Linked DNA regions of Homo sapiens. The protein of the gene in region 4 interacts with the protein of the main gene of each other region in a pairwise test. Each region holds a gene or a part of one and is shown on either strand. Other genes may lie near its edges. The genes, in order: TRMO, PLCG2, BAAT, RAD54B and SFRP2.

Region 1 (3,516 bases), on a different chromosome or scaffold from region 4:
TACCAGTAACATCCCTTTGCTTTGGGACTCTCTCACATCTGTGTCCCTAAGAAACAGCAAAACTTCCTATGTTTGTAGGATTTTTAATGTATTTTATTTTTAATATGGTATGTATAAAACATAAATTTAGAAAGTAACTGTGACCTAGTTTTTCATAACTACAACATCACATACATCCAAATGCCCCTTCCAGGAAGGTACAGATCTTAAAAACACTGTCCCTGCTCAAAATATCATCTGTGGTGGCAGTGGATCTTTATCCCTCTTGGAGTGGATTTGATTTCTACAAGCAGCCAAAAATCACTGTGGGCCATATCTAATAAGCAGGTTGGGTAAATAAAGCCATGAAGTACAATTTTTAGTCAAAAATCAATTATATGGGCTGGGCACGGTGGCTCACACCTGTAATCCCAGCACTTTGGGAGGCCAAGGCAGGAGGCTCACAAGGTCAGAAATTTGAGACCAGCCTGACCAACATGGTGAAACGCCATCTCTACTAAAAATACACACACACAAAAAAATTAGCCAGGTATGGTGGCGCACGCCTGTAATTCTAGCTACTCAGGAGGCAGGAGGATCACTTGAACCCGGGAGGTGGAGGTTGCAGTGAGCCAAGATTGCACCACTGCACTCCAGCCTGGGTGACAGAAAGAGACTGTATCTCAAAAAAAAAAAAAAAAATCAATTATATGGCAATAAGGTTCCTTTACTGCATGGCTCATAGAAAATGGCTCTGAAGGCCACTCAAAAATGAGGAGAGCTCATCACACTCCCCTGTGACGGCGTTTCTGGGAGAGGCTCCAGGCCTCTGCTTGGCCGTTTATCTGGCATGGGTGCCTTCCCCCAATTCCCTGCCTACTCATCCTGCCAGGCTCAGCTCAAGCACTGTTTCCTTCCACACTCCCTCCCAGACACAAGTCAGGATTCTCCTCTCAGAGTGCCCACAGCACTCTGCCCAGACCTTTACTCCAGCACCAAACTTCCTCCCATTTCAACACCTTTAACCTCTTCTAGACTCAGAACTTCCTGAAGTCACTTCTTATTTCTGCAACAGCTCTGAATTTTGCTGTTTGCTATCAATCAGTTCCTGTTTTGTAGTTACACTGCGTAATTTCTCATTTTAATCATTTTTTTAATCAGTAAGGCATATTTCAAACATCTGACACATACTGCACTGCAGTTTAAAAAACAAAACTTTCCAGGCTGGGTGTGGTGGCTCACGCCTGTAATCCCAGCTACTCAGGAGGCTGAGGGAGGAGAATCGCTTGAACCCGGGAGGAGGCGGTTGCGGTGAGCCGAGATCGCGTCACTACACTCCAGCCTGGGTGACAGAGTAAGACTCCGTCTCAAAAAAAAAAAAAAAAAGAAAGAAAGAAAAAAGAAAAGAAAGAAAAACAAAACTTTCCATAGTAGTTTGCATTAGACAATAACCACAGGACAAGTGGTAAGCATAAAGTGTCTAGAAGGCAGGACTGTTTTGTTCCACCATAAAATCCTTTTACAACTGACCAGCCTCCTCCCATCAACTGTATACAGTGATGTAATGATTTCTATCAACAAAACTTTTAAAAATAAAAAGATCAATTTTAAAATCAAAAGCTTTGTTTAAAAGTAAAGCCTTAGGAGCCAAAGAGAAGCACAACCCTCAAGTGGCATCACCACTCATGACCACGAGACTGCCGTGTCCAGAAGTGCAGGGGGTGCCCTGCATACGGCACTTGGCTGAAGTTTGCATGTTGGGGCTAAAACCAGTTCCTGGGCCCTGGCAGGTGGCTGCCTCCACCCAGAGGAAGGGGTGGCTTTTCCTTTGCAAAAGGCAACAGTGTGGGCTGGCTGTGGCTCTGACAGGAAGAAATGGGGAAATCTCAGAGTCAGTTGGCATGTATCTCCAGTCCCAACTTTTAGACTTCTTTTTCCCATCAGAAAAACCTCCTTCAGGTTGGATTATCAAAGCCAAATACCCCCCTAGCCTCTTCATTCTCTCCCTGCTAGTAAAGCAGGGGAAAATCTAGTATCTTTGGTTGTGTAAGCCTTTATTTTCTGGATATAGAATGAAAGTCTTCATTGTCTCAATAAGGAACTCCAGCTTGCCTTTGCATGTCACTGAGGTGTGACATCCCAGAAATCACACAGGTAGTGATCTGACCCCAGAGATGGTCCCCTGCTCTCTGGGGATACGGACATCAAGTTCCTCTGCCTTTTACTTCTCCCAAGATCAAAACTCAAGTCCTTACAATGGCCTATAAAACCCTTAGGTGACCTCGTCCCTTTTCTAGTGCCTCTTTGACCTCATATCCTTCCGCTCAGCCCTCCTCAGTCCACTCTGACCACATGACCTCAAACGTGCCATGCACCCTCCACTTTGCGGCTGTGCACTGGCTGTCCCTCAGGCCAGCATGTCCTTTCTCTGGACAGGCTGGCTCATGTCTTCACCTCTTTGACCTTTGCTCATATGTGTCTTTCTCAGTGAGGCCCACTGGGGCCACCTATTTAAAATTGCAACAGGCTAGGTGCAGTGGCTCACACCTGTAATCCCTGCACTTTGGGAGGCTGAGACAGAGGATCCCCTGACCCCCAAGAGTTCAAGACAAGTCTGGGCAACAAAATGAGACCCCGTCTCTTTAAAAATTCAAAATAGGTTGGGCACGGTGGCTCACACCTGTAATCTGGACACTTTGGGAGGCCAAGGCGGGGGAATCACAAGGTCAGGAGATCGAGACCATCCTGCCTAACACGGTGAAACTCAGTCTCTACTAAAAATACAAAAAATTAGCTGGGTGTGGTGGCGGGCGCCTGTAGTCCCAGCTACTCGGGAGGCGGAGGCAGGTGAATGGTGTGAACCCGGGAGGCGGAGCTTGCAGTGAGCCGAGATCGAGCCATTGCACTCCAGCCTGGGCGACAGAGCGAGACTCCGTCTCAAAAAAAAAAAAAAAAAAAATCAAAATATTAGCCAGGTGTTGTGGTGCACACCTGTAGTCCCAGCTACACAGAAGGCTGAGGTGGGAGGACTGCTTGAGCCCGGAAGGCTGAGGCTGCAGTAAGCCATGTTCTTGCCACTGCACTCCAGTCTGGGTGACAGAGTGAGACCCTGTCTCAAAAATAAAATAAAATAGTAACAACACTCCAAGCCTGCTGTATTCTTAAATTTTTCAGTAACTCTTATCACCTTCTAATATTATATAATGTTGAATATGTTTGGTCTAATAACTTGATTGCTTATTATACTTTTAATTTGTCTCTCTCCTCCCCATTAGAATGCAAGCTCCATGACAGCAGGGGTTTTTTATATCTGTTTTGTTCACTGATGTATTCCAAGAACCTAGACCAATGTCTGGTACCTAGCAGAAGCTCAGTAAACAACTGTAGAATGAATAAATGAACTTCCCTCTTTATATGGTTATGCTGGCTCCTTACTGAGTTGTAACACAAAGAACAGCTTTTTGCAATCTGACATCTCCTTGGCAACCAGCTTCTTCTTTTTGATGGAGTCTCACTCTGTCACCCAGGCTGGAGTAC
Region 2 (3,516 bases), on a different chromosome or scaffold from region 4:
GTGCCTGGCACAGGAGAGGCACTTTACAAATATGTAGAGGGCAAGGAGAAGTTGCTGCAGACCTGTGTTCCCCTACTGCCTGGTCCAAATTCCCCATCCGTTTCCCTGGAGAGCTACTCACCCTCCACCACCCTGCCTGACCAATCCCTTTGTAGCACTCATCACAAAATACTACACTGATTTCCTTATGTGCTCAAACCTCCTCAGTGCTTCTCAGTGAAGGACAGTGACGCTTCACCCCATACCCTGACCAGAGAGGGTTTGAAAAAGTGTGTGTCCTGGGGCAGGGATGTTATTTTTGATTGTTACAATGACTTAGGGTCCCAGACAGACATGCAGTGGGTAGAGACCAGGGAAGTTCAACATCCAAATACAACAGGATCAGTCCTCACACCCCAACTCTTTGAGAAACACTGTGTGGACTGAGCTTCCCTGACAGTGGGCCATGGGGTGAGGTGGGGAGCGGCCATCCTTGCTGATTGATTCACTGAGCCAGCATTCACCAACCACCAACTACATCCCAGCCAATGTTACATAAGCAGGAACAGGTCAAAAGCAAGAAACACTTGGAGTAAGGCGATGTCTCTCATCCCTGCCAGACCATTAGCCTGAGAGAGCAAGGACTGGGCTGTTTTTATCACTCCTGCATCTCTGGAGCCCAGCACAGGGCCCGGCACACAGTAGGTGCTCACCAAACATCTATTAACTTCTAAAAAATAAAAACTTCCATTCTCAAGACACCTCCAATCTCATGGGGAAGACAAGCTCACAAACTGAATGGGGCGTGTATGTAAGTCAGGCAATCAACCTGAGGACCCACCCAACCTCTTCATTCACGCGGTCCCATTGAAGTGACCCCAACCCCATCCCCAGATGGCCTGTCAGAATCATGCCACCTGGCTCAGGGAGGGGGCCATCCTTTCTGCCGGACACTGTCCTGGCAGCCCAAGGTACAGCCACCTGAGACAGAAGCTGATGGAGAGTAACGCCAGCATGCACATACAGGTGGCATCCTGACCATCATCAGGTGAGGCCCCGATCCGGTTGTGTCAGAGCTGTCTCACCGCTTGGGCACCTCAGTTTCAGCCAGTTGGGTTTAGTTGCCATCATTTGCACAGGATGACAGCACAGTGGGAGTGCCAACACCCCACCTGGGGCCTGGCACACAGCAGGTTTTCAATCCGTGTGCAGCGGACTGAACACACCTCCTCCCCATCCAGGCTGAGGAGGTACCACTAAGAGGCTTAGGGGAAAGAGCAAAGGGCAGAGGCACCAATGCTGAGAAGCCCAGGTCACCCTCTTGGGAACAGAGAGTACAGAAAAGCCATGCTGGTGGGAGGCTGCTCTCTGGCTGGAGCCAGTACACAGTAGGTCCTCAGTAAACTATAGTGATAATGACCGTCACCACGGTCCCCAGGGAGGTGGCTCAGGCATAGTGGTGCAGGCAAGGAGGAAGGGAAATCCAAACGCCCAGGGGGCAGCCTGGCAGGGTCACCAGGGGATGGGATCAGGGCAGAGGGAATGGGGAGAGGAGTGGACAGGGGCAAACCACACACCCCACAGTAGCTGCCATGCAGCCAGCACCACCGCGCCCATGTGGAAACACAGGCCCAGAGCATCCACTGCCTCCCATTTTTCACAAGAAGCAATCTGAGTTTTTCAGTGAAATTTCTCAGTTTTTCACATCAGTGTACAAAAGACGCCCACAGGCCTCTGGCTGGAGATTTGGCCCCCAGGCCTCTGGCTAGAGACTCTGGAGTGAAGAGCTTAGGCTTTGGAGACGGACAGGCCTGCATCTGAACCTCAAACTCAGTTGACTATGAGGCTGTGTGACTCCAGGCAGGTCACTTAACCTCTCTGGTCCTGTTTCCTCCCTTGCAATAACTAGACCTACCTCTCACAGGCTGTAGCAAAGGATTCAATCAGATGAGGCCTTGAAGGCAGTCCAGTGTCTAGAACACGGTTAGGAACTCAACATATAGCAGACTGTTACCACCGTAAGAACATGCAGGGAAACCCTGGGGCTGGGGAGATGGAGGGACAGTAGGCTACACGGAGTCTGAGTCACTCCTCGGCTCCTTGTCATTAGTGGAAGTGGGAGAATCTGGCGTTTTGGGGTAACATTAGAGAACCACAGGCCTAGAGGTGGTTGGGCAGCAGCTGCAGTTGGGAGGAAACCAGATCTATATCATCACAGGCCTGGGCTGCCTGGGCTGTCTGGGCTCGAATCCCAGCCCCACCACTTAGTGGCTGCATGCTTCAGCAAGTTACTTAATCTTGCTGTGCCTCAGTTTCCTCCTCTGAGAAACACGGATCATGGTCATGTCAACCCCACAGAGTTACTGGAAGCCAAAGTGAGTTACTACAGAACATCCTGCCCTGGAGAACGCAGACTGTGCCTGGCACGCAGGAGCGCACATTCTCGCAGCGGCTTTTGCTGTGGTGGTTGTTGTTGTCGCTGATGCTGGGGGGGCAGGGCACTGCAGGTGAGCCTCCACCTGAAGTTCCCCCTTGTCTCTCCGCATCTGTCCTTGCCAAGCCCCTCTGTAGAGCATGTGCCTCCCACCCTCGCACCCACCTGAAGGTGATGGCATAGGAGTCGCTCCCCTCTCGCTTCCGGATCAGGAAGGCCCCGTCCCGGGGAATCCTCATCAGCATGTCCTCTGCCTCTCCGCGGCTCAGGCTGTCATAGTACCACCTGCGGCACAGGGCCAGGGAAAACGACCAGGTGAGCGGTCTCCAGGCTGTCAGTGGGCCACCCGCAGAGGACAAGATAATGGCACCAGTGACACCTGGAACCTGGCCCTGGAAACGACCATGGAAATCACACAGTGGGCTTCCCCAGACAAAGGCACCTCAGCAAAGAGAATTTGTGAAAAGAATAGTGGAAGACCCCAGGGGTCTGTTTCAAGCCCAAAATAATACATTGGGCCGAGCACAGTGGTTCACACCTGAAATCCCAGCACTTTGGGAGGCTGAGGCAGGAGGATCACTTGGGGTCAGGAGTTTGAGACCAGCCTGGCCAACACAATGAGACCCCCATCTCTATAAAAAATAAAATAGCCTGGGCACAGTGGCTCACGCCTGTAATCCCAGCACTTTGGGAGGCCAAGGCAGGTGGATCGCGAGAAGCCAGGAGTTCAAGACCAGCCTGACCAACATGGCGAAACTCTGTCTCTACTAAAAATACAAAAATTGGGCCAGGCGTGGTGGCTCACGCCTGTAATCCCAGCACTTTGGGAGGTTGAGGCGGGTGGATCATGAGGTCAGGAGATCGAGATCATCCTGGCTAACACGGTGAAACCCTGTCTCTACTAAAAATACAAAAAATTAGCCAGGCATGGTGGCAGGCGCCTGTAGTCCCAGCTACTCAGGAGGCTGAGGCAGGAGAATCACTTGAACCCAGGAGGCAAAGGTTGCAGTGAGCCGAGATCATGCCACTGCACTCTAGCCTAGGCAACAGAATGTGACTCTGTCCCAAAAAAAAAAAAAAAAAAAAAAAAAGGAAATACAAAA
Region 3 (3,967 bases), on a different chromosome or scaffold from region 4:
CCAGCACCAGGGAGAGGCAGTTTCTCAACTGATAAAAACACCTGAAATTGATAATTGGCAGCTTTCAGGAACTGGGCGAATGAGCTCAAACATGCACATTAAGAGTCAAAATGGCAGAGTATGACCTTCCAGGGGCATTCCACCAGAATTTGAAAGAAAGCCTCAGATAAGCATGCATAAAACTCCAGTAAACACACTGTGCATGCCCACATCCCAAGCACAAGCAGGGCACCATGCATGTGGGTGGCTCCCCATAACCCTTAAGGGAAGGATGAAGGGAAAGGGGTGCAAGATGCCAGAAGTAGGCCAGCATATAAAATCCTAGGTTCAAGGATGAACGAGGCACTTGACCTCCAAGATGCCTGCTTGGGTCTCTCCCAAGTGTGTTTTCCTTTCTTTCCTGTTCTAAAGCTTTTTAATAAACTTCTGCTCCTGCTCTGAAACTTGCCTTGGTCTCTTTTACTGCCTTATGCCCCTCAGTTGAATTCTTTCTTTCGAGGAGGCAAGAAATGAGATTGCTGCAGACCCATACAGATTTGCCACCAGTAACTCAGATATTCACCACCCCTAACAATATTATCCATTCAATTTATTTCTATACAAATATCACATGCATCAACCAGCGTGCCCAAACAGAAATAAGTCAATTAGAAAGTCATTAACTTTAGCTCAAACTTATACTTGCTTTTTTTGGTATTTTTTAACATTACATTTCACTACCAGAAAGCATTCCTGAATTGCATAAATAGGTATAACATATATTCAAAGCTTCAAGAAATATTTTCACAGAATCTAATTCTAACATGGCATTAGTCTTACATTAAAAGAAAATTACCCTTCAAACAAAATATAAATAGGACCACAGTACAGTTTCCCAGAATAGGAGGGCTTATTCTATAAAATTCTAGGCAATAGTCTTTTAAAAGAGGGAGAAATATTGATGGGGATGGGGAAGACAGAATAAAGAAATTTTAACAAATGACTTCTGATAGCCTTTCATTTTCCTCAGAAATATAAATTTCAGCTCAATATCATCATAATAGCAAGTCCCTACTGACATCCTTTCTAAGCAAATCAAAATGAAAAGACACACTTATCTGAGCACTCTGGGCAACTCTACAGCTGAGATTATGAAATGAACAAAAAGACTATTTGTCCTCATGAACTGCTAAAATTCCAAACACTGAGGTAAATAAACTCTGATTTAATTCAAGAGCAGAGATTTTAACTTATTTCCAATCGGCCCAAATAAATAGTCCTGATTAAAATACAAAGTACCTGGATTCTTCCTCTTGAGCCTTCTTTTCCAGCAGTAGAGGGAAAATGACAGACACCCTACCAAAACTTGCCCAGAAGGCCAAAACCTCAAATATGCCTTTGGAAGTATAACAGAGCTAACTTAAGTGCTAGGTCACCACATACCTCTTGCTCTAGTTTCCTATTAATTTTTAACAGTTATTGAACCCAATAAATGTATCACTATTTTCCCTCTTCATTTTCTGTTCTCTCTAAATCCGTCCCTCTTAGGGATTGCCACTACATTTTACTCACATTATTTTAATAATTTTCTTTATAGAAGTTGTTTGACCCCTATTGGCACCATTAGGGCATATTTTTCTTCTGCAATAAAATACTCAAGGTAACTTCTGGAGGGCTCTGCATTTGCAAATGGTTTCTTTCCTGAGACAACAAAAGATGAAAACTACAAATGTGATCACAGTAATGAGTAATAAAATACTCAAGCCCCACTTTCAGAATTTGGGGAGGACCAAATCTCCTACTAATCCTCCTCAACTAATTCACATGGTTTCTTGAAATAGCTACAGAACGGAGTGTTAGTAGGATTTTACATGACAATAAAAGGACTATCTCCATAAAAGTACTGGATCTTTTTTGAGGTGATAGAGCATTTAAAAAGTGCAAACTTAAAGGAAACTTAAATTCAACTTAATTTTAAGGAAGTCTGATCAGCCAAATACTCCATAAAAAACTTGAAAACTATTAAGCTACTACCTTGCAAGACTTATGCTACAGATACAACTGATTAAGAATTATTAACTGGGATACATAAAATATTCCTAAAAAAGTAATGTCTAAAAATCTCAGGTGAATATGAGAAAAAGTCTTAAACAGGTACTTAACAGACAATAGGACACAATCATAAGCTTATGGGAAAAGGCTTAATCTCATTATCAAAGAAATGCAAATTAAAATCATGGTGTGTATTTCATACCTAAAAGGTTGGCAACAATTAAAAATTCCAAAAATAAGAGTTGGTTAGGAAGTGAATCACTCAGACTCAAGCCCTACTAAGGGAATATAAATTGGTACCACCACTTTGGAAAGCAATTGGACATTGTCTAATAAATGTGACAATATGAATAACTTTTGACCCAGCAATTCTTCTTCTAGAGAATAAAAATAAATGAATTACAACTACATGCAATAACCTGGATGAATCTTATAAACATAATGTCGTTAGAAACTAGTCATAAATACACATAAATAAATCTTTCAAATTTGTATTTGCTGAACTAAAACTATAGGCCACATTTTTGGAGTAAATCTTTAAACAAAAGCAAGGAAAGGATTACTGAGAGTCTGGATTGTGGTGAAAAATTACATTAAAAGAATGGAAGTAAGTAAATGAAAAAAATACATACCTAGCAAGAGAACCTGCCCCCAAAATTTCAGCGTAGGTTCTATTTTCCCTAAGTGTCGGCTGGTCTGAGAAATAAAGAGAAAGAGTACAAAGAGAGGAATTTACAGCTGGGCCTCCGGGGGTGATGTCACATATCAGCAGGACCGTGAGGCCCCGAGCCACAAAACCAGCAAGTTTTTATTAAGGATTTCAAAAGGGGAGGGGGTGTATGAACAGGGAGTAGGTCACAAAGATCACATGCTTCAAAGGGCAAAAGGGAGAACAAGATCACATGCTTCTGAGGCCAATAAAGATCACAAGGCAAAGGGCAATGCAAAGATCACAAGGCAAAGGGCAAACTTAGAATTACTGATGAGGGTCTATGTTCCACTGTGCATGTATTGTCTTGATAAACATCTTAAACAACAGAAAACAGGGTTCAAGAGCAGAAAACCGGTCTGACCTCAGATTTACCACAGCAGGATTTTTTCCCCATCCTAATAAGCCTGAGGGTACCGCAGGAGACCAGGGTGTATTTCAGTCCTTATCTCAACTGCGTAAGACAGACACTCCCAGAGTGGCCGTTTATAGACCTCCCCCTGGGAATGCAATTCTTTTCCTAGGGTCTTAATATTTAATATTCCTTGCTACAAGAAGAATTTAGCGATATCTCTCCTACTTACACGTCTGTTTATAAGCTCTCTGCAAGAAGAAAAATATGGCTCTATTCTGCCTGACCCCACAGGCAGTCAGACCTTGTGGTTGTCTTCCCTTGTTCCCTAAAATCACGGTTATTCTTTCTTTTTCAAAGTGCACTGATTTCATATTGTTCAAACACACGTTTTGCAATCAATTTGTACAGTCAGATACAATTACAGTGGTCCTGACGTGACGTACATCCTCAGCTTACCAAGATATGAGGATTAAGAGATTAAAATAAGACAGGCGTAAGAAATTATAAGAGTATTATTTGGGAAGTGATAAATGTCCATGAAATCTTCACAGTTTATGTTCAGAGACTGCAGTAAAGACAGGTGTAAGAAATTATAAAAGTATTAGTTTTGGGAACTGATACATGTCCATATTAAAATGAAATCTTCACAATTCATGTTCCTCTGCCGCGGCTCCAGCCAGTCCCTCCATTTGGGGTCCCTGACTTCCCGCAACACATACTATGCAACAATAAGCATAAGAAACCTAAAGTAGTAATGACTAAGATTATAAAATATATATATATCATATATCTATATGACAAGATCATAAAAACCATAAATCCGAATAATGGATTTCAAGATTTATGTGGCAAAAATTGACAGAATTAAAAGG
Region 4 (3,516 bases):
CTACCATCACGATTTGTTGTCATATCTGTGATACTATATGTTATTTATGATTTTTCTTCAAATCATTTTAACTTAAATTTGAAAAGAAAACTCTTTCTAAGCATAATTTATCTGTGAAACCAAAAGTTTAATGTGCTATTTTTCTTTTTTTTTTTTTTCCTCTCCAGACGGAGTCTTGCTCTGTCATCCAGGCTGGAGTGCAGTGGCGCTATCTTGGCTCACTGCAACCTCCGCCTCCTGGATTCAAGTGATTCTCCTGCCTCAGCCTCCTGAGTAGCTAGGATTATAGGTGCCTGCCACCACACCCAGCTAATTTTTGTATTTTTAGTAGAGACGGGATTTCACCATGTTAGCCAGGCTAGTCTTGAACTCCTGACCTCAAGTGATCCGCCTGCCTTGGCCTCCGAAAATGCTGGGATTACAGGTGTAAGCCACCATGCCCAGCCTATTTTTCCAATAATTAACTAAATATGCTACTATTCAAATTTTTTTAAAGGCTTGTCCACTTGCCACCTCAAAATGGTCCCATATACTGCCAGTGGAGTAGGGATCACAGTTTGGGAAACACTGTTCTAAGTTCTGAGAGTCTCTGAATGATTTTAAATAAGGGAATGCCATGTTCAGAACTGTTTTTCAGAAAACTCAAGATGGTGGCTTTAAGTAGAATACATTATTTGAGAAGCATCAGAAGCAAATATACAGGTTAGAAGCCATTGCAATAGTCTAGATAAAATATGATATTTTTATGACATCGGTTACTAGAGATGCTGCAGTGGAATGACAGAAAAGATTAGGAAACAATATTTAGGAGGTTAAAATAATTAAAAGTTCAGGTTTGACTAGATTCAGAATGTGAGAGAGAAGAAATCAAAGATGATTCACAGACCAACTGAGATAAGACCTTCGAAAGAAAAAGCAGATTTGGGAGGAAATATGAGTCTAGTTAACAGTTTCTGGAAGACAGTATTCCCTTAACTTGTCATCATTCAAGGAGTTCTTAGAGTTGGGGAGAATTTCATTTCCAACTACCTTTAAAGGACAAATTTTAAAATCAAGGGTCTTGGCATTTAAAAACAAGGCAAAACAAAACCAAAACAAATAAACAAAAAAGACTGGAAGAAATGTTAGCAGGGGCCTTTGATTCTTTTTTTCTCCTGTTTTTTTGTGTCCTCTAAAATATCTTTAAGATACTACTATTCTTTAATCAGAAAATGCAAAAAGGAAGAAGAAACTTTTTTCTATTTTCAGATGTAGAGACAGAAGAAAATCTTTTTCCAAAATTCTCATAACCAGGTGCAGTGGCTCATGCCTGTAATCCTAGCACTTTGGGAGGCTGAGGTGGGTGGATCTCTTGAGGTCAAGAGTTCAAGACCAGCCTGGCCAACATGGTGAAACCCCGTCTCTACTAAAAATACAAAAATTAGCCAGGCATGGTGGAGCACGCCTGTAATCCTAGCTACTCAGGAGGCTGAGATGCAAGAATCACTTGAACTTGGGAGATGGAGATTGCAGTGAGCCAAGATAACGCCATTGCACTCCAGTCTGGGCAACATAGTAAGACTCCGTCTCCAAAAAAAAAAAAAAATTCTTATAACCAGAATTAAAAGCCTCTTTCACTTGCTCTTATGACCCTTTACCACACTAGCAGTCGGTAAGCTTTTATTATACCACATTAAGGTCAATTGCATTTATCTGTTTACTCAAATACTTTAAAAGCCACTTAAAAGTAAGGACCGTGGTCCTGATTCCCATATGCCCACCTCCTAGCAGTATGTTTGGCACGTGGCATCTATCAAGAACCACTTTTGGAATAAATGCACACAGTAAGCACTATTCACCTTTCCTACCAATTGAAATTCATAGTGTACCCTCAGGACTCATTATATTAGGATCTTCTTAGAAAACCATTATTGTGTTACAGGTTAAATCAAAATTCAGATTAGATTAAACAAATGATTTATTTTCCTACCTCATTCCCATTACACATTCATAAAGGAATATGATTCCTTCTTTCTGATGTGGTCGAAGATGATATACAAGGTAAGGATCAATCACTACATCCACAAGAGGGAAACAGTTCTTATTGAATACCCACTGGTGATTCTTATCTGGTCGTGGCATAACGAGGGAATCTTAAAAAATGATAAAAGTACAAGTATTGTAATTTCACTTTTTCAGCAACCAACATTATCTTGTTTTCATTACCCTAAGATAGAAATGTTTGCCATCATTTGTGGCCAAAAAAGTCCAAAATTTAGTCACAGTAATGTTACCCAAGGGCACAAAATTTAAAAAGAAAATCTCATGCCTTACTGATGAACGATTTCATGCAAAGAATTACGAAGAGCCTTCCAAACTTCATATACCCAAAAGTGCTTCGAAAGCAATGAAATTCACTATTGTCTAGTAAGGAATTCAATAAGCCACAACATTGAATAGTTCAGTATTCAGAGCAAAGAGAACTATTTCCAACTGAAAGTACAGGTTGGAATTTTGCCAAGATGCATTTGCCAATGTTCACAGCTTCTCATTCTGAAAAGTCTCCCCAAATTTAACATACAGGCTTTCTATCTTTTCAGTCCTAAACACACTAACAATGATCATTACTCCTATTAATTAGAACTGAGAAAAAATGATAAATTCTCCATTGACTTAGCCACCATTATTTGCTTGAAGTTAATTACTACATTCATGAATGTCAAGTTCATAAAGCTTTTTTTTCTGGGGACAGAGTATCACTCTGTTGCCCAGGGTGGAGTGCAGTGGTGTGATCTCAGCTCACTGCAACCTCCGCCTCCCAGGTTCAAGCAATTCTCGTGCCTCAGCCTCCCAAGTACCTGGGATTACAGGTTCGCGCCACCACACCCGGCTAATTTTTGTATTTTTAACAGAGGCAAGGTTTCACCATGTTAGCCAGGCTGGTCACGAACTCCTGACCTCAAGTGATCTGCCCACCTCAGCCTCCCAAAGTGCTGGGATTAAAGGCATGAGCCACTGCACCCAGCCTCATGAACCTCTTTAAAGCAGCATGAAGTCATCATAGAATAACAATGTAATTCTTCAAAACTATGCTAACACAATTTAAAAGATTTACTAAAATATCACCCAAAAAGGCAAAATCAAATATAACTAGAAGGCAGGTCTCAATTGATAAATCTGAAATTAGATAATAAACCCACCAAAATTATTTTGGGGATATATTTGCATGCCTACATCATGTTTATAAAAATTGAATTAGATAAAAAAAGAAAAAAGAATGAGGAGATGAGAAGAGGAGATAAAAAGAAATAGACTCCAGTAGACTATGTAAATATTCATCAGTGTGGAACTATACTGTCACAGGAATAAGAGTTTAGTCATGTTTACCATTAACAAATACCCAGAGGGTAAGTTTTCTCTGGATCTTCCTAGGTTTCTGAGTAACTGAAATGAACTTTCATCTTTGAGGTCAATTCCTGTTAGGTAGGAGACTAGGAAGTAAAAATGGGAAATGTAGTCCTTGGCTTTCCTCTATAT
Region 5 (4,010 bases), on a different chromosome or scaffold from region 4:
CTCATCCTCCCAACCTCTGGGAAATTCAGTCTGAAAAAGTTATTCCCAAGGCCTTTTGAAGGAGAAAGCACCCAAAGAACCAAAGATACTTGAGGAATTTGGGAAAACTGGTAACTAGAAAATATAGACAAAAGATTGTCTTTCTCAGCCACAGGACACCAGTGTAGTTGGCTCTACTCGGCAGAGCTCTGTATCTCAGGGGGGCCAAGTCTGGACTGGGAGGGGTGACTGGCTAGCGTTCCACATGTGGGCTGTTTCCACCTTGAAAACACATCTCACTAATTACAACAGCCTGCTCTAAGTGGTTCTGTGTCACCTTGTGCCTCTGCCAAGATTGTGCTTGAGTTAGGCAGCATTCATTTCATTGTTATCTGCAAGCTCCCTGGTACAGGTTCTTCTTGCCCTTCTGTGCCTGTTTCAAACTCTCAAAACAAACAAATAAATAAACCTGTTTCTGAAGCTAATCAAAGACGAAGCAAAAATGGTTTAGTGGTCTGATCAAACTTAGGGATTGTATACTAGCACAATTATCAGAAGACCTGCTAAAAGCTCTTCTAAGAGTTTGATTTCTTGGGAGAAGTAAAAAAAAAAAAAAAAGAACAATTATATTGCCCTTCTCTCATTTATAAATGTGTTAATTATGTCTTTAAAATTTAGGTGAAATGAGATTTTCACTAATGTGAAATTTAATGTTCATAGAAAACTATGTGACTTAATAGAAGCGTTATTTATCAAATTAGAAAAATCACAAAGCTGGAATTTTGAAGAACATAAACTTTTATTTTGAAGGAGAAAAGTGGCTTTTTGGAGAAATGTAAGATGCGTAATGTTGCTGCTGATAGTGGGAAGAAATAAAAGCAACATACATAAAACTGCCCTTAAGTCCCCTCACCCAAACAAAATCAAACATTTCCAATTAGGAGCTCTCAGGATGTATATAAAATATTACTAACCTGTATTGGTTGGTCTATGGTACATGTTGGACAAATGTTTGAAAAATGCCAAACATTTGCAATAAATTAGAAATCTAACCAATAAGATGATTGCAAACTCATGGTCCCTGCCAGGAAAGATTGCTAAAGAACTTTGCATTTGCTTTAACTAATGATGTCTGTAGGAAAACTACTAGAGATTGAAAGGGAGAGGCTGCTGAAGCCCTGAAAGGGATTAGGAAGCTCCCTTTTCCAACCCAGGGGACCCAAATCAGCTCAGAGGCATTGTATATGTTTTCCTTTCAGAAAAAATATTGAGAGCCCATGAGGTTTTCATTGCTTTGATGGTTTTTGCACAGGAACTCTCCCTCCGTTTTCTAAAAACTTGGGAATCTCTTTTGCATGATTTTCTCCAGCTAATCAAAACCACTCCTAAGTTAAAAACTGATAGCAATAGAAAAGTGATTTCCAGAGATTCCCTTTATGCCCTCTTCCTCAAGTATCTGAGCAGTTACAACCAATGTTCAATTTTCCACACACTCCGTGCCAGTCCCGGTTTTATTTCCAAAATCTAAATTGACAAAGGACAAAAAGACCCTTAAAAGGTTATCTACTTGTGCATCCTGGTTTTCCTTTCTGTACAGGAAATGTTCCTGTGACTAGAATCCTGCCCAGTGGTAGGAAGGTGCAGAATGAGGCTGAGCGAGGGGCCTCTGGCCAGAATGCTCACCACAAACTCCTCCACCAAACACCACTTCCAACGCTCTGCGCAGCTCCAGTGCTAGCATCTTTAACAATAATCGTGTATCTATTTTTTTTTAAACCGCCGTTCAGTTCTTCGTTTTTTTAGTTTTGTTGTTTTTGTTTGTTTGTTTTATTTTTAAACTGCCCTTAAGTATAGCTGGTACAACTCGGGAGGAGAATGCGCGAGACTTGGGCGGCGTGGGAGGGGTGCCTCAAATTTGATACAGGCTTGTTGTGATGACAGACCAGGTCAGGCAGAACTTCTGCCCTTCCCGCTACTGGCACCCCAAGCAGGGATGCACTGGGATGCGTGGCAGGGGCGGGATCTCCTGGGAGCGTCTCAGCCCAGCAGGGAGTGGGGAAGCAAGAGGGAAGGCTTACCTTCCTCGGTGGCTGGCAGGAGGTGGTCGCTGCTAGCGAGGGGGATGCAAAGGTCGTTGTCCTGGGGGAAACGGTCGCACTCAAGCATGTCGGGCCAGGGGAAGCCGAAGGCGGACATGACCGGGGCGCAGCGGTCCTTCACCTGCACGCAGAGCGAGTGGCATGGCTGGATGGTCTCGTCTAGGTCATCGAGGCAGACGGGGGCGAAGAGCGAGCACAGGAACTTCTTGGTGTCCGGGTGGCACTGCTTCATGACCAGCGGGATCCAAGCGCCGGCCTGCTCCAGCACCTCCTTCATGGTCTCGTGGCCCAGCAGGTTGGGCAGCCGCATGTTCTGGTATTCGATGCCGTGGCACAGCTGCAGGTTGGCAGGGATGGGCTTGCAATTGCTGCGCTTGTAGGAGAAGTCGGGCTGGCCAAAGAGGAAGAGCCCGCGCGCCGAGCCCAGGCAGCAGTGCGAGGCGAGGAAGAGCAGCAGCAGCGAGCCAGGGCCCTGCAGCATCGTGGGCGCGCGACCCCGAGGGGGCAGAGGGAGCGGAGCCGGGGAAGGGCGAGGCGGCCGGAGTTCGAGCTTGTCCCGGGCCCGCTCTCTTCGCTGGGTGCGACTCGGGGCCCCGAAAAGCTGGCAGCCGGCGGCTGGGGCGCGGAGAAGCGGGACACCGGGAGGACAGCGCGGGCGAGGCGCTGCAAGCCCGCGCGCAGCTCCGGGGGGCTCCGACCCGGGGGAGCAGAATGAGCCGTTGCTGGGGCACAGCCAGAGTTTTCTTGGCCTTTTTTATGCAAATCTGGAGGGTGGGGGGAGCAAGGGAGGAGCCAATGAAGGGTAATCCGAGGAGGGCTGGTCACTACTTTCTGGGTCTGGTTTTGCGTTGAGAATGCCCCTCACGCGCTTGCTGGAAGGGAATTCTGGCTGCGCCCCCTCCCCTAGATGCCGCCGCTCGCCCGCCCTAGGATTTCTTTAAACAACAAACAGAGAAGCCTGGCCGCTGCGCCCCCACAGTGAGCGAGCAGGGCGCGGGCTGCGGGAGTGGGGGGCACGCAGGGCACCCCGCGAGCGGCCTCGCGACCAGGTACTGGCGGGAACGCGCCTAGCCCCGCGTGCCGCCGGGGCCCGGGCTTGTTTTGCCCCAGTCCGAAGTTTCTGCTGGGTTGCCAGGCATGAGTGGGAGAGGGTGTGTGTGTGTGTGTGTGTGTGTGTGTGTGTGTGTGTGTGTGTGTTGGGGGGCTGCGTCCCTGGTAGCCGCGTGTGCCCTGTGATGGAGCCCGGGACCTGCCCGCCCGAGGCCGCCTCGGCGAACTTCGTTTTCCCTCGAATCTCCAGCCACCGTTCAGCAGCCTGTCGGTGTGCTCCCCAATGCCGTAAAAAAATCAGAATTATAAATATATTCGTATGAGCAGAACTTTACATGGAAAACGAAATACTAATAAAATGGGCTTGTTATTCTGTTGGAGTGAGTGCCTAGGAAGGGTTTCGTCGTTGTAGAAACGCCCCTACAAGAGTCTCACCAGTCACACAGGACTGCCCACCATTTCCCCGTTTTGGAGAGATTTTTCCTTCTTAAATGAATGGCATGACTCAATACTCGAAGGCATCACGGGCTCTAACACACAGCCGCCCTTGCAGCTGTGCGCTCTGGAAAGCTGGAGTATGGGCCCCCAGGGCACTGTTTGTAAAGACTGGTGGCCGGCACAAAAGACGGGCACAAAAGATGGGCAGGCTGGGAGGGAGCGAGGTAGAGGAAGGAGTCCTGCCTAGAGATCCACGAGGGCTAGAATTAGCTCATTCATCCCCTACGTACCAGGGGGCACCATGCTGGGCGCTGGATGTGCAGAAATGAACAAACAGGCCGGCCTCTGCTCTCGTGGAGCCTGGGATCTAGTGTCTCTGACTGCAAACAGTAAGTTCTGGGTTGGGGGGTGGGCTCCTTTTGCCTAATTGTCCCTAGTCTCCCT

Evidence for each region.
Region 1: the proteins of RAD54B (region 4) and TRMO interact in a two-hybrid assay, tested with the Homo sapiens proteins (one large-scale study listed by BioGRID and IntAct).
Region 2: the proteins of RAD54B (region 4) and PLCG2 interact in a two-hybrid assay, tested with the Homo sapiens proteins (one large-scale study listed by BioGRID).
Region 3: the proteins of RAD54B (region 4) and BAAT interact in a two-hybrid assay, tested with the Homo sapiens proteins (one large-scale study listed by BioGRID and IntAct).
Region 5: the proteins of RAD54B (region 4) and SFRP2 interact in a two-hybrid assay, tested with the Homo sapiens proteins (one large-scale study listed by BioGRID and IntAct).

Annotation. Positions count from the first base shown.
Region 1 is NC_000009.12:97,905,494-97,909,009, forward strand, and holds part of TRMO (tRNA (adenine(37)-N6)-methyltransferase), read right to left. Parts: intron 1-3,516. UniProt on the Homo sapiens protein: S-adenosyl-L-methionine-dependent methyltransferase responsible for the addition of the methyl group in the formation of N6-methyl-N6-threonylcarbamoyladenosine at position 37 (m(6)t(6)A37) of the tRNA anticodon loop of tRNA(Ser)(GCU).
Region 2 is NC_000016.10:81,911,779-81,915,294, reverse strand, and holds part of PLCG2 (1-phosphatidylinositol 4,5-bisphosphate phosphodiesterase gamma-2), read right to left. Parts: intron 2,699-3,516; coding exon 2,579-2,698; intron 1-2,578. UniProt on the Homo sapiens protein: The production of the second messenger molecules diacylglycerol (DAG) and inositol 1,4,5-trisphosphate (IP3) is mediated by activated phosphatidylinositol-specific phospholipase C enzymes. It is a crucial enzyme in transmembrane signaling.
Region 3 is NC_000009.12:101,382,192-101,386,158, forward strand, and holds the start of BAAT (bile acid-CoA:amino acid N-acyltransferase), read right to left. Parts: upstream 2,816-3,967; 5' UTR 2,664-2,815; intron 1,683-2,663; exon of another isoform or gene 1,552-1,682; intron 1,374-1,551; exon of another isoform or gene 1,279-1,373; intron 1-1,278. UniProt on the Homo sapiens protein: Catalyzes the amidation of bile acids (BAs) with the amino acids taurine and glycine. More than 95% of the BAs are N-acyl amidates with glycine and taurine.
Region 4 is NC_000008.11:94,402,108-94,405,623, forward strand, and holds part of RAD54B (DNA repair and recombination protein RAD54B), read right to left. Parts: intron 2,133-3,516; coding exon 1,970-2,132; intron 1-1,969. UniProt on the Homo sapiens protein: Involved in DNA repair and mitotic recombination. May play an active role in recombination processes in concert with other members of the RAD52 epistasis group.
Region 5 is NC_000004.12:153,786,277-153,790,286, forward strand, and holds the start of SFRP2 (secreted frizzled-related protein 2 precursor), read right to left. Parts: upstream 2,808-4,010; 5' UTR 2,560-2,807; coding exon 2,058-2,559; intron 1-2,057. UniProt on the Homo sapiens protein: Soluble frizzled-related proteins (sFRPS) function as modulators of Wnt signaling through direct interaction with Wnts. They have a role in regulating cell growth and differentiation in specific cell types.